Regions from separate parts of the Homo sapiens genome. Here region 1 is linked to region 2. The links come from fine-mapping of genetic effects on gene expression. A gene starts in region 2. The other region holds a variant in brackets. All regions are shown on one strand. Distances are between the middles of the regions. Region 1 overlaps KCNQ4 (potassium voltage-gated channel subfamily Q member 4). Region 2 holds the start of KCNQ4 (potassium voltage-gated channel subfamily Q member 4).

Region 1 (2,895 bases), 32 kb before region 2:
ATGATGCCCAGAGAGGGGCAGCCACAGCTGAGGGAACACAGCACAGCAAGCTGCTCTCTGAGCCATGGTATGAGAAGCCTCTTTCCACCTTCAGCCCTCAGCCCAGAGGTGCCACCTCACACGGCCCCCCTCAGTCCCGGACTCCCAGCCCAGAGGTGCTACCTCACACAGCCCCCTTCAGTCCCGGACTCCCAGCCCAGAGGTGCTACCTCACACAGCCCCCCTCAGTCCCGGACTCCCAGCCCAGAGGTGCTACCTCACACAGCCCCCCTCAGTCCCGGACTCCCAGCACTTACCAAGATGAGGAGACACTCGTTGGCAAGTTCCTGGTGCTCCTGGATAGTGGACAGCACAGACAGCACCAGGCAGCTGAAGACCAGCAAAAATCTGCAATTACAACATGAGGGAGAGGGTTAGATTGTTGGAGGGACAGGACAGCCAAGGTGCCCCTGGCAGGGGGTTACAGAGCCAAGAGAGGAGAACATTATTTTCAGAAAATTATGTGGAAATCAGAATTGGAATTCCCTGGAGTTACAGCTCTGTGCTGGGCACCAAAGGCAGCAGCCCTCAAGCCCCAAGCTACTGGACCTCACAACTATCTCAATTGCCCCCTGCTGCAGGCTGCAGCTCAGAGAGGTAGTCACTCATCTGTGAGTAGCAGGTCTGGCAGTGGAAATAGACTGACTCAGGGTTCCTCCAGGTCTAGCCATCCACAAGTGGTGGCCTTGGCCCCAGCTTGGTTTTAAGATGTCTTGGGAGAAGTGCCCCAGAGGTCAGCCCAGGGCTCAGGGAAGGTCAGCGGATGAAGGAGGGACCTTCTTTCTTATGCACTCCAAAGTGGCAGGAGCCTGGCCTCATCTGCAGAATTGGGACAACTGCCCCTGCCTTCGTGGAATTAAGTAACGAGACAGCTAGAAAAGGAAAGAGGATCATGGAGGACAGGTAGAGAAGGAATGATGCAGCAGGGAGAGGATGTAGGGAGGGGAATTGGGCAGTGTGGAGCTGGGCCATCGAGGCCAGGAACTTCCCTGCAGACAGCATGAAACTACAGAGTGGCCCAGAACCAGAGACATAGAAATGGAAGGAACTTTAGACCCTAGCACATCCAATACTTCCCTCATCCCCCAGTGCACCACGAGGAAACAGGCCCGAAGAGGAAGAAGGACTCACCCTTTGTCGCCCAGTGTGCCCAGGACAGAGCTGAGATTAGAGCCAGGGTTCCCAACCTCCCAGTGGATGGGAAGAGGACCAAGGGCATGAGGAGAGAAACTGGTGGCCTTGCGGTATGTGGATGGGTGAAGGAGAGCGAGGTGAGAGGTCACAGGCTGCAGACACAGCAGAGGCGAATGAGGTGGCCTCCAGGAGCACCCCTCTTTAGGATGGGGGTGTGCTGAACATGCACACACCCTGGAGGAGACTCCGGAGGGAACAGGCTTCTCTGGAAATACATCTCTGTGTACTGACCCGCCAGCCTTCCCAGATGTCCCCAGTCTCCCCACCTCTGCACCGTTGCTGGCACGGTGCATGCTACGCAGAACACCTCATGTCTGTGCCTGCGAGACTCTGCTCATCGTCCACGCCTACAGGAACACAAATGCTACAA[AG/G]CTCTACGGAGCCTCTGATTCCCGCACCCCACTATCCCCCCTTCAGAACTGCCAACTCCCGATGCTTGCCTCCCTATGTGTGGCCCAAGTCACCTTCTATGTGGCTTTATTTATATTCATGTTTCGTGGTGACCTTAAGGACAGCAGCTCGGGGTCAGAGAGACCTGAGTTTGGATCCCAGTCCTGCTTGTGTGTGTGGTTTTGAGACTGTCACCTGCCTTCTCTGAGCCATCTCGTTATCTATGAAGTGGGGGCTATGGAAGGAAGACATGCAAAGGGCGTGGCACTGCCCTGGCTCACTTACACCTCCTGGACAGGGGTTCCTGACCTTTTTGGGGGGCAAGTGTATCCCAGCAAATACCCCTGGTTTGAGAAGGTAGGTGGCAGATGTCGGTAAAGTGTTATGAGTGAATGAGTTCGAGAAGAGCTTATTCCTCGGCCAGTTCCAGACCAGAGCTGAGTCAGCAAAAACACGGGGTACGGGAGAACAGAAGAGAAGAGCACCAGCTCCTCATGTTCAATAATTAATCACAAAAAAGGCAGCGGCCACATGTACCTGCATCGGGACTGCAGCTGAAGCAGGGTTTAGGACCAGAAGGGTCCTTCATGAGGTTATCTCATGCAGCCCTCTCCTCGGGGAATGGCCACAGCCAGGACTTTTTAAGACTTTACCCCGGCCTTGACAGACACCCTCCAGTCCCGTTTCTCAGCTGACCTCAGAAGCTCAGGCAGCAGTGGGCCACTCTGGGGACTTCTTCTTGAATGTTTCATTAACACTTTTCTTTTTCCTTTTGCTTTTTTTTTTTTTTGAGATGGAGTCTCATCCTGTTACCAGGCTGAAGTGCAGTGGTGTGATCTCGGCTCACTGCAACCTCCGCCTCCCGGGTTCAAGCGATTCTGCTGCCTCAGCCTCCCGAGTAGCTGGGGCTACAGGCACATGCCACCGTGCCCAGCTAATTTTTGTATTTTTAGTAGAGACGGGGTTGCACCATGTTGGCCAGGATGGTCTTGATCTCCTGACCTCGTGATCCACCTGCCTCGGCCTCCCAAAGTGCTGGGATTACAGGCGTGAGCCACCAAGCCTGGCCATCATTAACACTTTTCTTGCCATGTCAGTAATTACACATCTATAAAATTTCCACTTCACAATTTAAAAAAAAAGGAAAGCAGATTATAAAACCTTAACGGCAATGTGATCCCAATGTTTGAAACAGAGATGGTTTTTACACACGTACCCAGAGTCAGCAAGGCTTATCTATGGGTGGTAAAATTAAGTGATTTGGCTTTTGTT
Region 2 (2,895 bases):
TACCCCTCTCCTCTTTCTTTTTCCCCTGGTGCCTAGAGCCAGGCCTGGTGCTGCCAGCCAACAAGGCAGGCGAGCTGGGCCAAGCCGGCAGGGTAGGGCAGGGCAGGCAGGGCGGCCGCCGTTGCCACTGGGAAGTTGAGGGTGGAGGGGAAGACTGAGCGAAGACACAGATCAAGTCGGACACAGCATATGCGAGTGTCAGGGCCCAGGGGGCCCACAGGGACCCCCACACACCCACAGTCAGCTGGGCAGGGGTAGGAATGAGGGCCGCCCTGGAGAGGAGCACCCCTGAGGGGAGCCCTTCATAGCTCAGAGCTGGGGAGCAGGTGACAGAAGCGTGTGGGAGCCAAGGGTTCCTCTTTGTGTCTGGGACACAGGGAGGCAGGGGTGGGGAAGAGGAAAAGGGCGCCCACTCCAGGGGCCCCAGACTTCGCCAAGCGGACTTGGGGGAGGCAGCTGGCGGTCGGGAGTACCTGGGACAGAGGAGCAGAGATTGGCGGTCAGGATGGAAATAAGCAGTTGCGGTGCGGGGAGGTCAGAAGCGAGGTCAAGCAGGGGTCAGGCCTGGGAGATCAGGGCTTAGGGTCGGGCTCAGCGAGGGGATCAGAAACCGGGCTTAGGCCTGGGGGGAGAGAGATGAGGGTCGGCCCTGAGGCAGGGGGGTAGAAGGCGGAGCCAGGGCGGGGCGGCCGTGCCCCGGGAGGCCAGGCTTGCGCGGGGAAACGCGGAAGGGCGCGGGGTCGCAAACTCACATGAAGACGTGGTAGACGAAGGCCCAGCCGCGGGGCCGCTCCAGCACGTTGTAGACCCAGTTCTGCAGGCGGCGGTAGCGCTTGTGCGCGGCCGAGGAGCGCTGGCCGCAGGCGGAGCCCGAGCCGGAGCCCGGCCCAGGGAGGGGCGCGCCCGGCGGCAGGGGGCTGCCCAGGAGGCCGAGGCGGCGCGGGGAGCCGCCCCCGCCCGCCTCGCCCTGTTCGCTCTGCACGGCCGTGAGCGCCACTAGCTCCGCGCGGGGGGCGTCCCCGGGCGGGGGACCCAGGCCGAGGCGGCGCGGGGGGGCCTCGGCCATGGGCGGCGCCGGGCTGGGGGCGCCGGGGCCCGGGCACGGTCCGGGGCGGGGGCGCGCTCGGGGCGCTCAGAGACGCATGGCTCGGACCCGGGGCCAGAGGGGCGACCCGGGGCGGGCGCGGGCGGCGGGGGCTAGGGGCCGGGCCGGGGCCGCGGGCGGGCGCTCGGAGCCTGGGGGCCGCCGGAGCCCGCACTGACCTCCCGCTTCCCCGGCGACTGGGGCTGCTCTTTCCGACTCCAACTCTCTTATTACGCGCTCCATGCCGCTCGCCTTTCCACCTGCCACCGGCGCGCGCCGCTCACATGTCACCCTCCCCCGCCCCGCCCCTCCCCCGCCCGCCCCGCGGCCGCCTTCCCAAATCGGGAGGGAGCGAGCGAGCAAGCGAGGCGAGGCGGAGGGAGGGAACGCGCGGAGCAGGCGGCGGGGCAGGGCGCACGGGCGGCCGAGTTGGTGCCTGGGCCGAACCGCGTGGCGGGGGCAGCGCGCGGGGCCGGGAAGCCGGACGCGTGCAAGTGGTGTCCACCGCTGCGTGGGGCAGTGTGGCCCCGAAGGCCAGCCCGGGGTGGGACGCCTCGTGTGTGCTTGTGGAAAGTGGAATGTGGAGTTGTGGCCGCGGGCGGCAGGGGAAGGGACGCAGTGTCCCGTGGAGTTTAGGTGTAGACCGGTGGAACGGCGTCTACTTGTGTGTGCAGGGTGGGTGGCTGTGGGTCTACCAGGTGCGGGGATGGAGTCAGTGAGGTGTGAGTTATGGGTCGGGTGTGGGTGGCTGCGAAAGTGGAGGTGGAGTCCGAAGGGGATGAGGTGTGTCCGTTGGGGTCGAGCACTGTGTGCCTGGTGCGGGTGCTTAAAGTGTGCCCAGTGCTGTGTGTGGCTGGGTGGGCAGCGGCGGTTGTCCTGCTCTTACCTGAAAGGCCTGGAGCCCACGGGCTGCTAGGCAGCATCAGGGTGTGTGGAACACAGTGGGCCTGGGTGTGTCTTTCTCCCACCAACTGCCACCTCTGAGCTTCCCTTCATCGTGATGGGGGAAGAGCCACCCTGCCCAGAAGAGGATCCTCCCCGATGGAGGGGCCTGCTCCCCTGCCCCACTCCCAGGTCAGGGAACTGGGTTTGGGCAGATGGAGTGTTGGGAGATGAGCTCTAAGCCAGCCTTAGAGGGGACACACACCCCCTACCCAAGGCCCACAGAATCCCAGCCAGAAAAGGGGATACTTTGTCCCAGGGCATTCCCTCTCCAGCTGGAAAGTTTTTCTTAGTCCCCGACCTCCATCTCTCTGGCTGTAGGGGGCAGTCCCTCTCCTTTAGCCCTCCTGGGCCCTGCACAGGGTTGGTAACTTGGGTTTCCCGATCCTCTTTCCCTCTTCCTCCACGGAAAGCTGCGGCCACACCAGCCGCTCCCTCCGCAGGCCCTGCCCCAGGGTGAGCCTTCCGCAGCAAACTCTTCCCGGTTCCTCCGGGAGGATCTCGAGGGACGAAGCCGAGCGGGAGGGGCGGGGGAAGGGGCGGGAAGGCGAGCTCGATTCTCAGCTGTCAGCAAAGGCAGCATTGATCTGCTGAGCGCCAGTGAGGGAGGGAGGGAGGCAGGGCCGTGGGCTGCAGGGATCTGTGGGGTCCCTAAACTGGGCTTGGCAACCGGCCCACACCCCTACCCCATAGTGATCCTTTCCCCTCTGCCTAGCTGGGGGTGCCCTCTGGGGTCTGACCTGAATCTCTTCTGCTGCTCCTGGTCCAGGTGTGCCCAGGGCCAGAGCCGGGTGCCCCAGGGCAGGTTATGCCCGGATCCTCTACTGGAAGCTGGGGACAGTTTCTGGACCCCAAGGCCCCACTAGGGA

What was found. PIP is the estimated chance that this variant, and not a neighbour inherited with it, causes the effect.
Region 1: its variant is fine-mapped to the expression of KCNQ4 in whole blood (TOPMed, PIP above 0.99).

What each region holds. Positions count from the first base shown.
Region 1 is chr1:40,814,757-40,817,651 of GRCh38, reverse strand. KCNQ4 (potassium voltage-gated channel subfamily Q member 4) reads right to left here. Exons shown (of 14, transcript NM_004700.4): 2 at 297-387. Among named protein-coding and RNA genes, the nearest start is that of KCNQ4, 32 kb to the right of the region's middle. The variant AG/G (reference allele first, on the strand shown) is at 1,604.
Region 2 is chr1:40,782,265-40,785,159 of GRCh38, reverse strand. KCNQ4 (potassium voltage-gated channel subfamily Q member 4) reads right to left here and starts at 1,373. Exons shown (of 14, transcript NM_004700.4): 1 at 753-1,373. The coding sequence starts at 1,066.